Regions from separate parts of the Homo sapiens genome. Here all the other regions are linked to region 2. Evidence: fine-mapped expression QTL. A gene starts in region 2. Each other region holds a variant in brackets. All regions are shown on one strand. Distances are from middle to middle. Region 1 overlaps OTOF (otoferlin). Region 2 holds the start of OTOF (otoferlin). Region 3 overlaps OTOF (otoferlin).

The links.
Region 1: its variant is fine-mapped to the expression of OTOF in whole blood (TOPMed, PIP above 0.99). The same link has a PIP of 0.9 or more in blood mononuclear cells, lung, monocytes and monocytes after R848.
Region 3: its variant is fine-mapped to the expression of OTOF in whole blood (TOPMed, PIP above 0.99). The same link has a PIP of 0.9 or more in T cells and blood mononuclear cells.

The regions. Positions count from the first base shown.
Region 1 is chr2:26,489,999-26,497,098 of GRCh38, forward strand. It overlaps OTOF (otoferlin), which reads right to left. Exons shown (of 47, transcript NM_194248.3): 9 at 4,944-5,075. Among named protein-coding and RNA genes, the nearest start is that of OTOF, 65 kb to the right of the region's middle. RefSeq lists a silencer at 1-50 and an enhancer at 3,648-3,797. The variant A/T (reference allele first, on the strand shown) is at 3,731.
Region 2 is chr2:26,554,556-26,561,655 of GRCh38, forward strand. OTOF (otoferlin) reads right to left here and starts at 4,201. Exons shown (of 47, transcript NM_194248.3): 1 at 3,938-4,201. The coding sequence starts at 4,016. RefSeq lists enhancers at 3,562-4,355, 4,356-5,148.
Region 3 is chr2:26,474,808-26,480,514 of GRCh38, forward strand. OTOF (otoferlin) reads right to left here. Exons shown (of 47, transcript NM_194248.3): 16 at 5,396-5,504; 17 at 4,666-4,846; 18 at 4,457-4,577; 19 at 2,842-2,942; 20 at 2,609-2,699; 21 at 2,365-2,481; 22 at 2,084-2,236; 23 at 1,321-1,510; 24 at 1,107-1,231; 25 at 552-686. Among named protein-coding and RNA genes, the nearest start is that of DRC1, 76 kb to the left of the region's middle. RefSeq lists enhancers at 2,752-2,941, 5,651-5,707. The variant C/T (reference allele first, on the strand shown) is at 2,573.

The sequences.
Region 1 (7,100 bases), 65 kb before region 2:
GGGACAGCCCATGCCCTTGTACTGTGCTCAGAAGAGGCACAGGGCCAGGGAGCAAGCAGACCTGGGTTCTAGTCCCCGCTCTGCACCTTCTTAACTGTGTGGCCTTGAGCAACACATTCTCTGAACCTCAGTTTTTTGAGCTGTGAAATGGGGATAATGACACCCACCTCAGAGTCTTGTTATGAGGCTCTGATGAGACAGTGTAACATATTTTACCAAATCTAAAGTGGCTACTGGCTGTAAGATATACTACGGTTTAATAAGCCACATGGACATTGCCATGAAGCCACAAGGCTGCCTAGGAGACACATCCCAAATTCAGAGAGGTGAAACTGTAAAATAACGCAAGCCTCAGAGCAGATGAACCATGGTGTGCCAAGCACTTAGTTGGCAGTCGATGTGAAATGCCATGGGTGTGCACTGTCCTTTGGTGCTGTGGGCTGCCATGCACATTTGCAGTCCCCATCTCTTCCCCTGGCCTGGGTGTGCAGGTGCTGAGGATGAGGGTGTGGGGCAGTGAGTAGAGGGGCTGCTGCTTTGGTGAACTGTGGTGGGGGAGAAGGGAGAAATATTTCCAATGTGCTTGGGGTAAATGTCCGAAGAGAACGTGCTCCTGGCTGCTGGGGGCTGGCCCTTGAGCACTGAGGGTAAAGCCAGCTTCAGAGCCAGCCCCACCTGGCTGTTACTGCTAGATCACTCACTTTCTTGCCTGAGCCTCAGTTTACCTATTATCCTATGAATGTGGAGATATGATCCAGGGCTGTCGTGCTGAACTGCTCCAGGGGTGCCATTCACTTGGGGGGCTTCAAGGTGTGGTTGTGAAGTTGCAATGAGACACCCTGGTCAAGTCTTTAACACAGGTGTGCACCACGGTAAGCACATAGCAAGCAGCGACAGCTGTGCATGACACTAACAGGCCCAGGGTGTGCTGGCCAGAGTTCTGAAGCTCTGGGGAGGCGGGTGGGGATATGGATTTGGGAATCGTCAGCACAAGATGGTAACTGACACCTTGGAGATGGAGGAGATACCTGGGGAGAGCATGGGAGGGGAAGCAGGCCCAGGTCAGGGCTCCAAGAAGACACAGCCTTTCAGCCAAGAAGTTAGGCCGGGGAGATGGAGCTGGAGAGACAGGGGAAGCAGGAGAGTGGCGTGAGGGGCCCCCAAGAGGAGCAGCAGGCAGCGGGATGAAAGAAACTGGGTGATCAAGGGAGAGGAGGATGACATGGACATTATACTCAGGAACAGCAATGTCCTTGGTGACCTTGAGGAGAGCAGTGTCAATGACATCTGGAGGCAGAAACCCTGCAGAGATTGAGGGGTGACTGGGGGGAGGAAGTGAGGACAACCCAAGTGGTCTGACTGTGGAGGGGTGGAGGGAAAAAGGAGGTCACTGGAGAAGTGTGTGGGAATGAGGAAAGGCCCAGAGAGAGGTGACAGACTCCTAGTTCCTGTCCTTGAGCACACATGGGTCTTCATGGTTGTACTTAGCATATGCTGGAGTAGAACACCTTATAGGCAAGGAAGAAGGGGCTGGAAGAAAAACAAAGACAGAGTTGGGCTGTGCAATGCCAGGTTCTTTGAGCTGTAGAAAGAGAAGGATCCAAGGCAAAGGGGAGAGGTGGATTTTCAGCAGGAGGAAGGATGGTGGCGCTCCCAAGATGCCCAGGGCGGGGCCAGATGCACACACAGGACACACAGGAAAGGAGCCTTAGTCTGGTTTGTGAATGGCCAGCTTGTTCCGGAAGGGCAAAGGTTTTGAGCTTCCCTGCACACAGGCAGGCTCAGGGCCAGGCAGGGTGATCAGGCCAGGTGCCCGCAGATGTGCCAGCCCCAGGGGAGCGAGCTAGCTGAGCTAGAGCCAGAATCCCGAACTCTCTGAGCTGTCTGCAATCAAATTCCTGTTATTTCCTGAGCATATTTTCCTTTTGTAATAGCTTAGATACCTAAGTCATGTTGATTGTTCCCACCTCCCTCTGTTGTTTTAATGGAGCCAAAGGAAGGTTCCTACCAGCTCAGATAATTAGTCAGAAATAATACATTCCCACGACGAGGAGGATGTCCTTCATTGAAAAGGAATGTGGCATAGAAAGAGAAGAAAAGGGAAACAAAGCTTTGGGGCTGGAAAGGCTGATTTGGGGCTGGAAGGAATCATAGTAAGATAGTTTAGAATGGTGGTCTCAACTGAGGGCGATTTCAGGGGACATTTGGCATGTCTGGAAACTTGGTAGCTGTAACTAAGGGGAGTTGCTATTGGCATCTACTGGGTAGAGGCCAGGGATGCTGCTCACATCCTACACAGCACAGGACGATCCCACCACAATTATCCAGTCCAAGATACCATAGTGCTGAGTTTGAGAAACCCTAGTTTAGAGGAAACAGAAACAAAATCAGAGCTATTTGGGTTTGTGAAAAAGAACAAAAATGTGATCAGAAACACATTTAAGATTGTCCAAAGATGAGCAGAATGAATAGTCAGTCTTAGAGGAAGTAAATAGGGAATTTAGAAAGATTCTAGGCTGAAACAAGGAGGGGACCTGCGCAGGGCGGAAACTGTGCCTCCTTCATCTCGGCAGCCTCCATGTTGCCCCACGTGCCACTGTCTGGTGTGCGGCAGATGCTCAGTGGATGTTTGTGTCTTCCTTTGGGTGAGTGTTACTGAACCCCTCCGAGTACATGCCTGGCTCTGAACAAATAGCGAGGCAGGAGACTGGGAGCCTCCAGTCCACCAGCAGGACAGAGACACGGAGGACCAACCTCAACTCCAGGACATTAACACTGCAGAGAAAGGGGAGTGCTGACCTCTGACCCAGACAGAGCAGGCAAGGCTGCTCAGTAGCAAGAACATTTGAGCTGGGCCCTGCCGGGTGAGTAGGAGTTTTCTGGGGGAGCCACAGAGTAGGGAGAGCAGCTCTGTGCCCTTGGGAAAGAGGAAGTAATTTGAATGAAAGCCAAGGTGTGTGGGCCTGGTGGAGGGAGATCCCTTAAGTTAGCAGAAGTGGCTTCACTGCTATCAAGTAACCACCGGGGCCACAGGGACCTGTCTCCATGCCTGTCTTGGGGACATAGATGCTTATCTAGGCGGAGACTTGTCCAGTCAGGATGTGTCCTAACGTAAGGCCAGAGATGTCAATCCTGAATGTCCTTGGGGCTGGAGGGGTCCTGAGCAGGTTGTCCAGCTCGGGGGGCCTGTGGGAAAGCAGCTGGGAGAGCAGAGTCAATTTGTGGTCACAAAGGAGAGTTCGGCCAGGCCTGGGCTGAAGGGCAGAGGTGGGCCTGGGTTTTCTTCCTGCAGGTGCACAGTCTGAGGACTCTCAGAGCTGCCTGAGAAATGCCCTCCCCCAAGCTACAGGGGGCACCTCAGCCCTCACCCACCTCAGGGTACGGGACTCAGCTGCCTTACTTGGGACAGCCTGGCACCCCTCACTGCCTGGAGCCACCAGGAGAAACAGACTGGGGAACCCTCCAGGAAAGGGATGGCAGGGCCCAGGCCTGTGGCTTCTGGGTTAGTCTGATGTGTGATCAGGCATCTGGGAAAGGCCTGGGCATCCTGGTGAGAAAACATTTTCAATGGTCCATTTTCAAGGCAGGATAAGTCTAAGTACTGGCATCCAACCTGCGAATGCAACAAACCACACGGCTCATGCACCTAGAAGGACACAATAAGCGAACAGAATGTAGAGGAGGGGTCAGCCCATGAAAGGGAAGAAAGTTTTGTTATTGGGAAATCGAA[A/T]CTTAAGTGGGGAAATCGAAGGGGAGCGGGGTATAACCTTGTAAGGGGGAAAATGAAACTTAGGCGACGTCAGGGAAGATTGTAACCCCATAGTGCTCAACCAATGGGGAAGTGGGGGAGGGACTTGCACACTAGGAGATAAATTCCTGTTGTGACTGCCCCAGGGGTGCCTGCCTACCAGACACTCCATCTTGCAAGACCGTTATTAAAAGTCTCACTTTCGCTGTTCTTCATGCCTCTAAGTCATTCTTTGGGTTTTGATGAGTGAGTGTATTTCTCTATTTCTCACATCCCTCCCCAGAGCTGATTATGATGGGGTCCCATCTGGAGCCTGGGAACCAAGGTGCCATATTTGTGATGGTGGCCAGAGCCCTGGGCTGGAAGCTGGGTGGGCAGCCTGGCCCCTGCTCTATCAGCAACACTCTCTGAGATTGTGGGCAAGGCCCTTCCATATGGAGGCCTCAGTATCCTCCTCTGTAAGATGGGGAGATTAAAGTAGAAGGTCTCTGAGGTCCCTCACCCTTGATGTGGCCTCAAATGGCTGGAAAGAATAGGAGTGGGTACCAAATGTTTTCTCTTTCACACCCTAAAATCAAGGCCAGTGCTCTGGAGAGAAGCCCGCAGAAGTTTAGGCAACCATGAAGGAGCCGAGCCAAGAGGGCAGAACCCCACTAGCACGCCAAGGGCGATGCTGGCACTGTGAGGTTGGACAAGGTCTGCCTTCAGAAGTCTCACTGTCCCCTTGTGTAAAAGGGAATTGATAGTGACAACTTTGGATGGTCCAGTTCAGAAGCATTTAGGAGCATGCCTGGCTGGTAGAAAGTGCTTACTAATGGTGCCAGTGCCACCATGGGTTGGAATGAGGCAGCCCTGTCCTTGGGCTCTGGCCTGGGAAACAGTGGGAACCAGGCCTCTTGGGGAGTGGGGTGGGGGGGGGTTCTTTCACAGGCACTGCTGGGGTCTGCCCAGGAGCACCCGGGTGGTGTACGCTTCAAAGACCAGTGTCGGCCTGTGCTCTAGACTGGGGGGTTCAGAGGATTCAGAAGATGTGGCTCTGTTTGTCAGTGTCCTGGGGGTTGTAACAGGGTGGATCACCCCTGCTGGTAGCCCTGTGTGCTCCTTGACTTCCAGCCACTCCTATTTCTCCTGGGGAGGGCTGGGGCCACCCTCCTGCCATATTTACAGAGGCTCCTTTCCCCACAGGGCCACTGACCTCGTTGTAATAGGGGCAGTTAGTGGACTCCTTCATGGATGTGTACTTCTTGTCGTCACCCACCTCCACGCACACCACAGGGTCCATGTTCAAGCCCACCAGCTGCCGGGCCTCGATCACCGTGATGCTGACCTGCAGGCAGGAGAAGGGGGAGCCAGAAGGAAAGCTGCCTGAGCCTAGGAGCCTGGTCCCGCAGGGGTCCAGGGGCTGGGGCAGCAGGGTCAGAGGGAGGGCCCGGGAGCCAGCACTGGCCTCCTGGGCTCCATTCTGACCACTGCCTCTCATCTGCTGGGTGATCCTGGCTCTTTCTCCTTCTATGCCTCAAGTGTCTTCATTTATAGAGGAGTATGAGTTGGCTAACCTCTAAGTCAGTGTTCACTAGACTTAACTTGCTGGGCCGAAGGGAGGGAGAGGCATTAAAAACACTGATGCCCAGGCCACCTCCAGACCAATCCAATCCAATCCTGGACATGCAGCTCAGGCATCTGTATTTTTATTTTTTTGATGGAGTCTTACTCTGTTGCCCAGGCTGGAGTGCAGTGGCATGATCTCGGCTCACTGCAACCCTCTGCCTCCTGGGTTCAAGTGATTCTTCTGCCTCAGCCTCCTGAGTAGCTGGGATTACAGGCATGCACTACCACACCGGGCTAATTTTTGTCTTTTTTATACAGATGGGGTTTTGCCATGTTGGCCAGGCTGTTCTCAAACTCCCGGCCTCAAGTGATCTGTCTGCCTCGGCCTCCCAAAGTGCTGGAATTACAGGCATGAGCCACCGTGCCCAGGCTGGAATCTGTATTTTTAAAGCTCCTAGGTGATGCCAAGTGCCCTGCGTTCTTCCCCAGCGTCGATGGCTCTGCTTCAGAAAGAGCTGCCAAACCCATGTCACAGGTTTCATGCACTCAGGAATAAAGCTTTCAAAGTCTTCATTAACTTGCATTTAATTTCCTGCTCCAGGAATTCTCATGTAAGCCTGCAGGCCTCTGATACGTCTTTGCATTTCTGGAATTTGGCTCCCCCCCCTTTCCACATTGTTTGCTGAATTTCTTTGTTTGTATGGCCAGTGCGGCTTTGGTGCCTGCCTGAGCCGCCTTTTTCAGCCTACTGATTGTATGTTGTGTGCACTCTGCTGTGTCCTTTATGTGGCGTCCAGCTCTGCAATCTTACTTATATCCTGGGAAGCCCTATTTCAGTTGTTCATTCATGCAACAAATGTTTCCTGGAAACCTGCTGGAGCCAGGCACAGGTGGGATTGCAACAAATTCTTCCTTGTGGAGCTTACCACAAATGATTAATGGCTTTTTTTTTTTTTTCACACTGAGTCTCTCTCTGTCACTCAGGCCTGGAGTGCAGTGGCATGATCTCAGCTCACTGCAGCCTCCACCTCCTGGGTTCAAGCGATTCTTCTGCCCCAGCCTCCCAAGTAGCTGGGATTACAAGCATATGCCACCCCGCCCGGCTAATTTTTGTATTTTTTTTTTAGTAGAGATTGGGTTTTACCATGTTGGCCAGGCTGGTCTTGAACTCCTGACCTCAGGTGATCTGCCTGCCTTGGCCTCCCAAAGTGCTGGGAATGCAGGCACGAGCCACTGTGACCAGCCAATTATTGGCTTTTTAAGCTAAAAAGATATAAGGACAGAGAGAGAGACAGAGAGAGAGAGAGCCAGAGCACCAGTAATTTTTGACATCACTACTACTTTTCCCGAACCCTCATTTTAAGCCATCAGGTCTCATTTGGATTTGGAGGTGTCAGTTCCTGTCAGGGTGGCCATGTTAAGATAGACAGAGGCATGTACTGGGGGTTGCTGAACTTGGGATTGAACCCCAGACCTGACATGTTGCCAGGTGTGAGGGCAAATGACCACATAGCCTTGTGTTTTTCAGTTACAAGCAGAGACACCAGCTACCTGTAAGGTTGTATGCAGGTTAAATGAGATCATGTGTGTCAAAATGCATCCTAAACAGCAGAAAGCTCTACAAAATGTGAGTGACCCCAACAGAATCTCCCTTCAGCTAAGCGGTTGATCTCTCAAGTAGGGAGCTTGTGCATGATACTTAGAATGATTGATTCACTTGCCTCTCTCAAACGTGTGTTTTAACAAGAAAAGCCTTTCCCCAGCTAGAATAAGCATGGACCTCTGTACATTCTTCTTTTTTTTT
Region 2 (7,100 bases):
TTTGTGTGCAAAGTACTACTCCTTCATGGAGGAGGTAGCATATGAGCTGGGCCTTGAAGGATGAGCAGAATTAATGGGCGTTCTCAAGGTGGAGGGTGGTCATTCCAGGCAGAAGAAATATGATCGATGTCTCAAAGTTTGGAGGTGTAAAAGGGTGTGGTATCTTTTGGGAATGGCTGGAAGTTGAATGTAGTGGGAACATAGCAGGGTGGGAATCAGGGGGAGGGTGGGAAGAAGAGTAAGAATGAAAAGGTGGAGGGGGATGCCCTGCAAACCTTTGTGCCAATTTCCAGCCACAGTGAATTATGTGGAAGCCAGATCCAGCCTTTAGATGTTCTTATCTCACACAGAAAATCCCCAAACCTCATGTCTTGGCAAGAAGGCTCAGGGGATAGAAAGAGAAGGGAGACATCAGGGTTGGCCCTGGACTGTCTGTCACTTGGTTCCCTTACAGTCCAGGTCCCCCAGCCTTGGTGCTCAGCACTGGACAGAAGGTTGGACTAGAAGAACTTCGGGACCCTTCACACCCTGCGTTCTGTGGCTCTGTGATTGATGTAGGGAACTATCTCAGGAGTTGATAAAGGAAATACCTGAAGCTAATACTTCCTCTCTTTGAGTAGCAACCTGTGGTCAAGATGGCTCCTTCTTAGATAGCCCACTCTTGATTACTCCTGGGAACTGCAGGCCTCTGAGCTAAATGAGGACCACTGTCTCCATTTTGTTAATGAGAAACCCAGCTGAGCCCTGTGGCCTGCAGGCACAATAGAGATTCGCCCAGGACTCCCTATCTCCTGTCTGACCCAATGGGATTGTGACTCCTGGAGGGCCAGGCTGGCCCCTTCACCTCAGGGTCCCAGGCCTGTGCACAAATATTAGCATGTTCAGGAAATGCATGAACAGGGCAGCACCAGCTTAGGAGCAGCCAGGGGCAGTAAGAACTAAGAGCTAGATACAGAACTGGCTGGGAGCACTGACCGAGGGGCCGACTGGCCTGAGGGCAGTGGGAAAAGAGGTGGCCACGGGCAAAGCTGGTGCACACCCAGCCAGATGAGAACAGGAGTCTCGGGGGTCTGCCTGCCTGGGTTCCTGCGGAACATCTCAGCAGAGGCTCCTACAGAGCAGAGTCCAGGCTCTCTGCCTTCTCCTGGCAGACTGGAACCCCTTAGACGTGCTCTCCTCTTCCCTTTATATCTCACATGGGGCCCTCTGCTGGTCTGGAGAGAAGATACCTCAGGGGCCAGCAGCTGCTCCCAAGGAGAATGGGAATGGCTGCCTCACAAACACATCGACCATTTGAATACTCTTCCCACAAACTCTTCCATACCTATGGTTTCCCTGAAGCAATCTAGTGAAGTGAGTGTTATTATCATGCCCATTTTACAGATGAGGAAACTGAGGGTGAGTGGCAGAACCCAGGTAGGATCTAGGGCTTCTGACTCCATATCCAGAACTTTTTCCACAATAGCCCAGGAGGGCTCTTTCCTTAGTGTCTTGGATGGCACAGCACAGAAGGTCAAGCCATATTTCAACCAGCTGCTCTGGCCTACCTAGGGCCACTGCCAATGGGCACAGCTCACCAAGGGCTCCCTCACCACCTCCCCCGGCATTGACTTTCACTCAAAAGCCTTGGGGAGCCTGGGGCCAGTGTCTCCCTCTGCGTGTTTACCAGTTTCTTGTTTCCCCCTGCAGAGGACTTGCTTGGCCCCCAGTGGTTGCATGTGCTGGGAGATGCTAAGGAACATTGTAGAGCGGGTCCATTCCCTCTGAATTGTGGTCAGTGTTGGTCTTTTGGGGCGCCTACAACTGTGAACTGCTAGATGACACAGGTGAGCGGCTGAGGCATCTTTCGTTGTAATAAAGGTACTTTCTGGAAACTGCTTGTCATCTGCCTATTCCTGCTGCCCAGCCCCCTTCCCCAGGAGCTCTGCCCATGGCCACCTCCTGCCAATGTGGAGCTTGGAAGCGATTTCTCCACTCAGTCCAGAGAGCAAGGGTTGCAAATAAACTAATTCCTGTGTGGTCAGTGAGGCTAAAGGCCCAGCCCTTCACTGCTCCAAGGAGAAGATGGGTGTCAGACAAGGTGCTGGCCCCCAGGTGGCCCAGGAGCAGATAAAGAGCTTGCAAGATTGAGTACTCAGGATGAGGTCCTGAGAGCTGGGACCACCGTGCCTCAGCTCCTCCGTGAATGCCACGCGCAGTGTTCTACCCCTGAACCTTGGTTTCTCGGCCTGCAAGTGGGCCTGTCCGGTGCAGCCTGGACCGTTCCAGCACAGCTGCAGCAGGATGGCAACCTGTAGCTTAACCGCCCCACACTATGCTGCCCGTGGAGCTCAGGGCCACATTTCACAGATGAAAGGACACATTTGCTTTTTCTAAAGCCAGCATGAGCCTGCAGGTGGCACACAGAGGGAGATCCAGGGTGCTGCAGAGAAAGCAGTCAGTGGGTTGGGGTGGGAGGCAAAAGGCAGCCCAGCCCACACCTCCCTCTCCCTCCTGCCTAACCTCCGCCTGCCGGCAGGGCCACTGCCATCACCTCCACCCCTGCCTGTCCCTATGAACACAAGCTGCAATGTGGGCATCCCAGGGCCTCTGGGTAGGTGATGTGGGTGCCCCAGGGCTCTTGCTGGAATGTTCTGCCAATGGTCTCTCCCATCCCTTCCAACAGAGGTGCAGACACTGTGTCCAGCCTGGGCCCCAAGGCTCACTTTGCTCTTTAGTATAGGGGGGTCCTCTCTGCCCCCTTCTCACCACCTCGTCCCCATCCCACTCTCAGACCCCTCTCTCGGGAGAAGGGGCCATGTCTAGTGAGAAGTACCCCCAACCCTCAGGGCTGGGCAGCAACCACATGGAGAGGCAGAGGTGGGTGGTGAAGGACAGAGTCAGCCTGGCCCTGCCTTTCCCCACTTAAAATGCTCAGGGGCTCCGCTGTCCCCGGGGTCAGGTCCAGCCTCGCCTCCTTGCCCTGCTTGGCTCTCTGGCCTCCGCTCCTGCACCCTCTCTGAGCTGTAGACACATGGAACCTCTTTCAGTTCCAGAGTTTCAGCTCCTCTCTCAGCTCTGGGCACACTGTTTCCTCTGCCTCCTCAGTCCTTACCTCCTCTCCTAGCTCCCACCCGCTGGTCCTTCGGGTATTAGCTGAGTGTTACTTCCTCCGGGAAGCCTTCCCTGACCACCGGTCACCAGCCTGGGTGAGGGTGCTGCTTCTGTAGCTTGCATGCTGCACCCCCACCTTCTGTCTCACATACCTGTCCTGCTTGTTCCACGCCTGCCCAACAGATGCAGGCTCCTTGGGGCTGGGGCTGGGTTGTGCTCAGCTCTGTGTTTCTACCCCTATCCTTGGGACACAGTAGATCATAATAAATGGTCGCTGAATACAGGAGTGAAAAGGATGAGAAAAGACCAGACAGAAGAGAGGCGAGGGGCTCCCGGGGTTCCCGCCCATGAATAGATCTAAAAGAAGCCAACAGTGTCCCCCATCACTCTGGGGCCCAGGGAGCTACTGGCTGCCTGGTTTCTCCCAGTCACCCTGGGTGCCCCAGGCTCCATACCCGGCCCCCACCCTGTGCTCAAGGAAATCAACCTGCAGGAGAGGGAGAGAGAGAGAAGGAGGGGGTCCTGGGTCTCCCTGAGCTCAGGGATGTGGTCCTCACTTCTGCCTCCCCAGGCAGAGGGCTCTGTGCCCTGCCCGGGGAACTGGCATGTTGGCAAGCACAAGGAGACACAGGCATGGAAGAACAGGGGACCCTGATTTTCCAGAAATCACAATGGCCAGTCAGTCCCAGGCAGATGACTACCTGTGAAAAGGCTCGTCGCCCCAGCCCCTGCTAGAACTTTTCCCACCCATCCTCCCAGCCCTGTCCTATCCCCGGCCACCTCCAGAGCATGGGCTGGTCCAGCTCTCAGAGCTGGCGTCCCTCTGAGACAGCGGCTTCCCTACCTCGGAAAGTCACTTTGGCGATCCGGTCGCCCCTGCCCCGCAGCTCCGAGACTGTCTTGAGGTGGATGAGCAAGGCCATGCTGGTGTGGGCTGCCTGGCACTGCCAGGCAGGAGCAGCGGGAAGGAGCTAGCCGGTGGAGCACGGCTCACACGCCTCTCTCTTCTCTGCCGCTGCCTCCTCCTCCTCCTCCCGACCCCCCTCCGATGCTGCCCACAGAGACCAAGGCAACCAAGCCGAGCTAAGCTGCTCCTGCAGCGACTCACAGAGCCTCACAGCCCCCGCCCCTCCAAGTTGTCAGCCCAGCGTGTGTGTATCGGTGTGTGCGTGTGTGTGTGTGTGTGTGTGCACCCAATGTGCAGCCTGGGAGTGCGGCAGAGTTGGAATTCATTATTCAGCAGCCGCCGGCTCCCAGATAAAGCTCTGTCCAGCTTCAGGTGTCTTCTCCCAGCTCCTGGAAGGGAGGCTCTGCCCACCCCTCTGCAGGGCTCTGCTGCTTCCCTGCTAAGCAAGCCCTGCCACCAGTAGTGGGCACAGAGGAGTGGGCATGAGCATAGGTAGGGTGGATGTGGGGCGGGGGGCACTCCCACCCACAGGGGCACACTACAAGAAGAAGGGAATGTATTTGTCCACCTACGCCCACCTCTTCCCTGCTGGAGACTGTGCCCCCAAGAGGCTGGGCCCTGAGCCCTGCCCTGGGATCCCTGTTTCTGAATCTCAGGAAGCAGAGAGGCTGGGGCTGCTGCCTGAGGGGAGGCTCAGGACCAGGCCATGCATGATGGAGATGGCTGGTTGTGGAGGCAGCAGAGGCTTATGTGCTACCAGGGGCCATGTTTAAGGATCCAGGGCACTAACCTAGCCCCACCCCAAGGCTGGGGGTCAGGCAGGCTAGCGAAGGTAAGCCAGGCTGATGTTTGCTTTCCAGCCAGAGGAGCAGAATTGAATGGCCTTCTGCTGTTATAAGCTGCTAGGGGCAGGAGAAGGGATGTCTATAGGGAAATTTCTAAGGACCAAAAGAGAACTGCCCCCTCCTGTCTTCCAGCAGCATACACCAAGGAAAGGGACGCTGGGGGCCAGAATCCCTGATGCTGGAATCTGTGCAGGGTCATCTGCAGCCTTGTTCTTGCTATTCATTCTTGGTGGAATGCCCTCCACCCCACCCTGGACTCAGCTTGAGTGCCTGCTCCTGGAGGTGCCTCTGTACCCGCACCCCAGCTGGGTTGGGGTCCTCCTCTGTGCTGCTCCTGCCTCCTCTCATCTTACTGAGTCCTGGGGCTGCTTCCCTTGCCTTTTCCCCTCCTGACCTCAGGAGGGCCCTGGAGCACAGCATCCCTCTACCCCAGAGCCCCACATGGTATCCTGTGCACCGTAGGATGCCCAATTACTGTTGAAAGGATAAAAGAGTGAGCTCAGGGATCTACCTGAAACAGAGTCTAAAGGTTAAAAAGAGAAATACTAATTTTTCACAGCATGGTAACAAGAGGTTACTTCTTTTGAATTCTGCATTCCAAATAACCTACAGTATGTCCCAAGAGCCTTCTTTCCTCCTTCTAGATATTTCCTTGCTACTGTGCCCTATTTTTCTTTTTCTACTTACGTTTTTTTCCTTTGCACTTTTTCCTAACCAATTCTTGCTTACCTTTCTCACATTTATCTAATCATATTGAATTTAAAAATGTCTTAGAGTATTCTGTTTATTGAATACAAGTATGAATGCTAAATTTTCAAAAGCTAGATAAGTTTAATGTCTTAAAAAAAAAAACACCTAAATTCACTAGCATTTTCCATCCATGAGGTCATCAGGTGATCTGTGTTTTTAAGGCTTGGTGACTACAAGGTACAACAACAACAACAGAAAATATCTTCTTCCTTGGTTCTCTGGAGGTCCTCCCCTGAAAGGAGTGAATTTCATGAGGCCTCTTATAGACCCTGTGCATCTTTAGGAAAAAGCCCATGATCCTGCCCTAGCCAAGGCATTGATCTATGCTGAATCTCACTTTCCACATCCATAAAATGGTAGCAATTCCACTCAGCAGCTCTCAATGGAGTCAGCTGGCCTTTCTGAAAACCTAAGAGACAGATCCCACTCTTTTTTTTTTTTTTTTTTTGAGAGAGAGTCTCACTCTGTCACCCAGGCTGGAGGGCAGTGGAGTGATCTAGGCTCACTGCAACCTCTGCCTCCCGGGTTCAAGCGATTCTCCTGCCTCAGCCTCCCAAATAGGTCAGACTATAAGCATGTGCTACCATGCCCAGCTAATGTTTGTATTTTTAGTAGAGATGGGGTTTCACCATGTTGGCTAGGCTGGTCTCAAACTGCTGACCTCAAGTGATCCGCCTGCCTCGGCCTTCCAAAATGCTGGGATTACAGGCATGAGCCACCGTTCCCAGCCAGAACCCACTTTTTAATTTCCATTCTTCTGTTACCCATTTTGGTAACTGAGTATATAATTTATGTAATGAACATTTACTGAATTCTTTCCAGAGCCAGGTGCTGAGATTCAGGGATGAATATGATATGGATGGCACAGGATCCCAATCAGACGAGACAGATGGACTAGAACACAGGCAGGTGGAAGGCAGGGTGGTGGGTTTACCAGCAGGACTGGCTGGGCAGCCCTGAATGGGGGAGGAAGTAGGCGGTCAACCTCACCAGGGCTGGGGGTCTTTGACTCATGTTTTCCTTATTGTAGAACATGTTCCCCAATGAGAATTTAGAAAAATACAGACATGACTGCATTCTGAAGGATGGATGGATTTTCCTTCCACCCAGTTTGTTTGCAGCCGTTCCTTTGCCTACAGCTCTCTTTCCAACCAGGCCTCAGTGTTTCTGCTTCCTGAGCCTCTGGGAAGCCTGTGGCTCCCCTTCATTTCATTGGCATTTGCCAGGGGAAGTCTTTGGAGAATGCTGGTGGCAGCCACATTCTGTGAACCCAGTAGCGTCTGCGGTCTTCATCCACTGCCATTTACAGAACCGAAGTGCGAGGGGAGCACTGCTCTCCATCCGGCATCTGAAGGGAAGAAGCAAGACCTGGAGACAAAGTGGGAACTGCCAGGCTTCTTCATGACACCAGGACTGCTGCAGAGGGAGCTGGGGTGGCAGGGCCTCCACCCGAGTCACCAAGAGCCTGGCACCGTGGAAGCTGTCCCCATACCCTCACCCCTTAT
Region 3 (5,707 bases), 80 kb before region 2:
CAAGTCTCAGGGCCCACCAAAGACTTGTTCAAGGCCAAGCAGTCAGTAAATGGCAGATGCCCGGCTCAGGACTAGACATGAGGTCCTCCTACCTCTAGTCCAGGGCTATCTGGGCACCTCAGCAGCTGAGGTGGTATGTGAGAAGGTGGCTCGCTAACTCTCGGGGGTCACCCCAATCCCTTACTCCCTGCTCCAGAACCTCCACGGAGGATGGCAAGGCTGTTACTGGTTGTGGTAGGTGAGGGCAGGGGTCGGGGAGCCCTGGGGTGGGGAGGCTAGTGACAGCAGGACTTGCTGGCACACCTCCAGGGCTCAGTCTGTAGGAGACAGGAGGTGAGGATGTGCTGGCCTGGGAAGGGGTCAGGCTGCCGCAAGCAGGCAGGAGGAGCTAGATGTCAGCCCCCACTCCCAGCTTCCCAGCCAGCACCTGGCCAAGGAGCTCTGCAGGTGGGTGGCGGAGGTGAGGGCACAGCCTCAGCGCAGGTGGAGTGCAGGGAACAAGGGCCAGGTGTGGTGCTGCTGGGGTCCCTGGCACCAGAGCCCACCCATACCATGGAATCCTGGTCATAGATTTCAATGACAATGATGGGCGGATCGTCCCTCAGCTCATGAGCTTCACCATAGAGCTCCAGGTTGTCGAACACCAGCATCTGGTCCCAGGTGGGACACAGGGTCTCATTCAGCACCTGCAGCATGGGATGGGGAGACAGGGGACAAGTGACAGAGGGGGGGGCAGATGCACAAACAGAAGCCACCCCTACTCACTCAGCTTCCACGGAACCTGGGGGCAGGAGTGACAGGTGTCTTGATTCTTCCAGAAATCTTAAAATCAAGGCTAATATGAGGTTTGGCCCAAGCCCCCTGCCAATGTCCTCCTTGTCGTCCCTGTCTTGTGAATATAACCACAGCTAAAGCCCGTAGCCTTTCCAGTGTGACCCGCGTCTGCTGCAGTTATCTGCAGGGCTTCCCCTGAGAAACCGGGGCACTGGCTGACCTGTGGCTCCAGGCCCCACAGGCTCACAGGCCCCACAGGCTCCAGTCCCCACAGGCTCACAGGCTTCTGGTGCTCTCAAAGCCAGAGCCACTCCCTCCTCCCAGGCCCTCACCTCTGTGCACTGACTCTGATTGATGAAGAAGACGCGGGCAAAGGGGTCTGAGAGTCCGCTGCTGTCGGCGGCAAAGAGGCTGCGGGCCTGGTACATGTGCGCTCGGAGCTGGAACGCCTGCTTCTCTGTGGGGAAGGGCAGCCTGAGGTTCCAGGATGGGCAGCCCCTCCGGCCCCCTCCCAGGTGAGGCTTCGAGTGAGGGGTCCTCACTCACTGGTGTAGACCAGGCTGACGGGTGGGAAGGCATGCAGGCCCAGGCCCTGGGCTGCCTTGACCTCCTGGAAGCCACAGGGCAGGCCGCACAGGAACTCCTTGCGCTGTTTGCTGAGGCCCAGCCACAGGTACAGCTCCACCTTGGCCTGCACTGTCCAGCCTGCCGAGCCGAAGCCCCGCTTCCCTGGCAGCTGGGGGTGGGCATGGGGTCACCAGGAGCCTGACGGCTGCCAGGGCCCAAGAGGTGGGGAAGGGGCAGGGGCCGGCAGAGGCCCTGGTCAGAGCTGCCCTGCCCCTTCACAGCCATCCCGCTGGGCTGGGGTCCGGTGGAGGCAGGAGGATGGGCAGGGGGCCGTCATGCCCCCTTCCCCACCCCTTCCCCCACCTCCTTCCCCACCCCTTCCCCCACCTCCTTCCCCACCCCTTCCCCCACCTCCTTCCCCACCCCTTCCCCCACCCCTTCCCTCACCCCTTCCCCCACCTCCTTCCCCACCCCTTCCCCCACCCCTTCCCCCACCTCCTTCCCCACCCCTTCCCCCACCCCTTCCCCCACCCCTTCCCCCACCTCCTTCCCCACCCCTTCCCCCACCCCTTCCCCCACCTCCTTCCCCACCCCTTCCCCCACGTCCTTCCCATTCTTGGCTCTTCTCTGAGCACCTGCTGCTTGAAGGCCCCACCCTGTCACTCAGGCTTCCAGCCCCAGGTGGGGGCTGCTGCTCCCCTGAAAGGACCCAGGCCCCCATCCATCCTGCCCCCTCCAGCACCTTAAGGAAGAGCGTCTTGACCTTGGCGCAGTCCTTGCCAGTCTCCTCCTCCACGATGGAGAAGAGCAGGTCCTTGGAGGGCACACGGGCATAGGCGACACGCTTGTTGTTGCTCATCATCCAGATGAAGATGTCGGGAATGCTGTGCTGGGGCTGGGGGTTGGGGGGTGGCCAGGGGCAGTGGGTAAGGGGGTCTAGCCTCCTGATTGAGCCCCCTGATCCTGAGGGGCCCCAGAGAGCCAGCCCTGGATGAGGCAAAGCCCCGACCCCTTGGGCCGCACCTCGTCCGCCAGGAAGCGCAGCTTCTGCAGGAAGTTCTGGCACAGCCTCAGCTTGTCCCGCACCGTGTGCCGCTTCACCTGGGCCCGCAGCATCCTGGCCTGCTGCCCCATGTTTTCCTGCGAAGGAGGGGGTGTCAGTGAACCCAGCAACTGGGGGACAGCTCGGGCCATGACAAAGGGGGTTGTGACACCTTCTCACAACCAGGCC[C/T]TCCCTCCAGCCCCCGCCGTCCAGTTGCGTCCTCACCAGCTCCCTCATGCAGGACTTGAGGCGCTCCCGGTCAAGCCTGGTGCGGGATGAGTGGCCCTGGTCCTTGTCAGCGAGGGAGAGGAAGCGGCTGGGGGTAGGGCGAGCCGGGGTTTAGCGAGCCTGACCAGCAGGGGCTCTGTAGATTCTTCCTCATCTGCCCAGCCCTGGCAGGGTCCCCTTTGTCCAGTTCCGCCTCATCCTCCCCCCACCTGCCGCCCCTCCCTTCTCACCAGCAGCCACAGCTCAGCTCCTCCAGGACGCCCCGCAGGCGACGCTCAGGGTAGGACTTCTCCGTTTTGATCATCTCCTGTATGTCGTTCAGGCCTTCTTCCTGTGAATCAGGAGTGTGGGTGATGCTGGGCCACAGCCCCGCCTCCCCAGCCTCCCCAAATGCCTCCTCCCTGTTGATCAGGGGAGTGAGGGACCTCATGATCTGGGAGCTCTCGCTAGGGCCATCCTGAGTATCGGTCATCATGAGGAAGTCATCAATTTCCCAGGTTCTGTTCTCAGAACCTGGAGATGTTGGTGTTCATGGGGGTTCTTCAGTTCCTGAAGGAAGAAGCCACCTCTGGGCTGTGAGTCTGTGGCTCTGGTGAGCTCACAGGGCCTGGGCAGAACTCACGGCTACGGGGCTCAGGGCTGGCCAGAGACAGAGGGAAACCCTAGGACTGGATGTGCCAAGATCCTGACGTCACTCCAGAATGCTGGAGCCTGTGGCAGGGGATGGGAACAGATGCCTGGGGGAAGAGGGAGTGGCTCTGGCTCTGAGAGCACTGGGAGGGCTGTGAGACCCAGGTCCCACAGGAAACACAGGTCAGCTTGTACCCCAGCTCCTTAGGGGGAAGCCTTGCAGATAACTGCAGACCCAGGTCACACTGCAAAGGCTATGGGCTTTAATTGTGGTTATAGTCACAAGACAGGGATGACAAGGAGGACATTGGCAGGGGGCTGGGAGCAGACCTCATATTAGCCTTGATTTTTTTGGAGGTTTTAATTCATTTTTATAAAATATGAGCTGGCTGAGCTTCAGGGAACTTCAACAGGGAACAGCAACAGCTCAGGGAAGGGCGGGATTATCTGCTGGTCCCTGCTTCCCCAGGCTGGGGAGAAGGAGGTCTCATGCCAACAGCTGCACTCCTCGCCCAGTCAGTGCCCATGGCTCATGGGGGGAGAGGGGTGGGCAGAGGAGGAGGGGGCAGCTCCTGAGCTTCAGACACTGCTCGCTTCTCCCTTTTCCCCATTTCCCTTCCCTAGCCTTGCTTTTTTATTTTGTTTTATTTTATTTTATTTTATTTTTTGAGATGAAGTTTTGCTCGGTTGCCCAGGCTGGAGTGCAGTGGCGCCATCTTGGCTCACTGCAAACTCCGCCTCACGGGTTCAAGCGATTCTCCTGCTTCAGCCTCCCGAATAGCTGGGATTACAGGTGCCCGCCACCAAGCCCCGCTAATTTTTGCATTTTTAGTAGAGACGGCATTTCACTATGTTGGCCAGGATGGTCTCGAACTCCTGACCTCAGGTGATCCACCTGCCTTGGCCTCCCAAAGTGTTGGGATTACAGGCGTGAGCCACCACACCTGTCTCCCTAGCCTTGCTTTTAAGATTTCTGGAAAAATCAGGGAACCCAACACTCCTGCCCCAGGATTCACTGGAGGCTGAGTGACTAGAGGTGGCTCCTGTCCTTGTCTGTGCCCTGGGACCTGGGGCTGAGAATGGGAACAGAGGTCCTGCTGGGGCCGTTCCTGCAGCCCCCTGGGCAGACCAGCTTTGTGTGTTCCAGGGAAGGCCCTCTGACAGCGCCGTCTCCCCCAGGACCCCACCCCTGCTGGCCCCTGGCCTGGCCCTGACCAGCTTGTCGGCAATGTGGTCCATGATGTTGGCATTGTAGAGGCGGCGGCGCTGGTCCGGCCACCAGCTCTTGATGTAGATGCAGGGCTTTCGCTCCAGGTAGGGCAGATGGAAGTAGTTCCTGGGGTGGGCAGAGGCGGGAGGTGAGGTCTTGGGGGCCCAGGGAGGTGGGAGGGCCAGGCCACAGGAGGATGGGAGGCTGGGCCCACCTGTCGGTGACCTGGGGCCGCATTGGTGGAGTGGAGGAGACTGAGGCCAGGTCCCCGGCATCACCGGCCTCGTCATCACTTGCGTTCTGAATCAGGTCTACTTCTTCCTCATCCCCCGGCTCCTTCCGGGGCCGAGGCCGCTGGGGCCGGGACAGGCCATCAACTTCGTTCCCATAGTTGCCTGGAGCAGAATGGGCCCAGAAGGCCTAGAGTGCATTCCCCACCAGGCCCCTCCCACCGTCCAATCCGGTGCTGCCTTGGGTTTGGGAAAGGGGAGAGGGAGAGTCAGGGAATGGGGCTCAGACGTGACACATCATTAGCCAGAGAGCATTAGCCCGTGTCCCCACTCCGCTGAGAGTCAGGGAGTCCTCATGACGCCTGAGTGCGAGGCCCAGCCCTGGCCCAGGCTGTGGCCTGAGTTCCCACTCTCTCCTCTCCAGCCCCGGGAAGGGCTTCTCCCTGCCCTCTGCCCCAGGTCCCAAACACAGCCTCACCCTGTAGGTGGAGCTGAGGGTTGGCCCCTTTATGGGGCGTGGTCCACCCCATGCACACACAAAGGTGTTTTGTGGGTGCTTGAGGCCTCTCAGGGGAAAGGGGTCAACGTTCCCTACAAGAGTGAGGACAGGGCTGAGGTGCAGAGCCTCACACTTACCACCTGCAGCCTAGGCCTGAAGCCCCCGTGGGCCCAGCACTCACCTAGGCCCGAAGCCCCCGTGGGCCCAGCACTCACCTATGGTGACCTCAAAGGTGATGGGCTTGTCTCCGTTTCTCCGGTCGATCATTGAGGCCTCCAGGAAGGCTCCAAAGAGAAAGAATTCTTCCATTTTACCTGCACAGCTCTGTGGGGAGGCAGTTCAAAGCGTTCCTGAGCTTGAGTAAGGGTGGCAGGTCGGGGGCCAGGCCTCCTTCCGTCTCACAGACAGGCCGTGGGGGTGGATGGTGGGGGCATCCCACCCGGCTTTGGGGCCAGGCAGCCCACACCCCAACGGCCCCCCAGCCTGGATATCCATGGAAGCAGGGCTGGCTGCAGACACCACAGGGA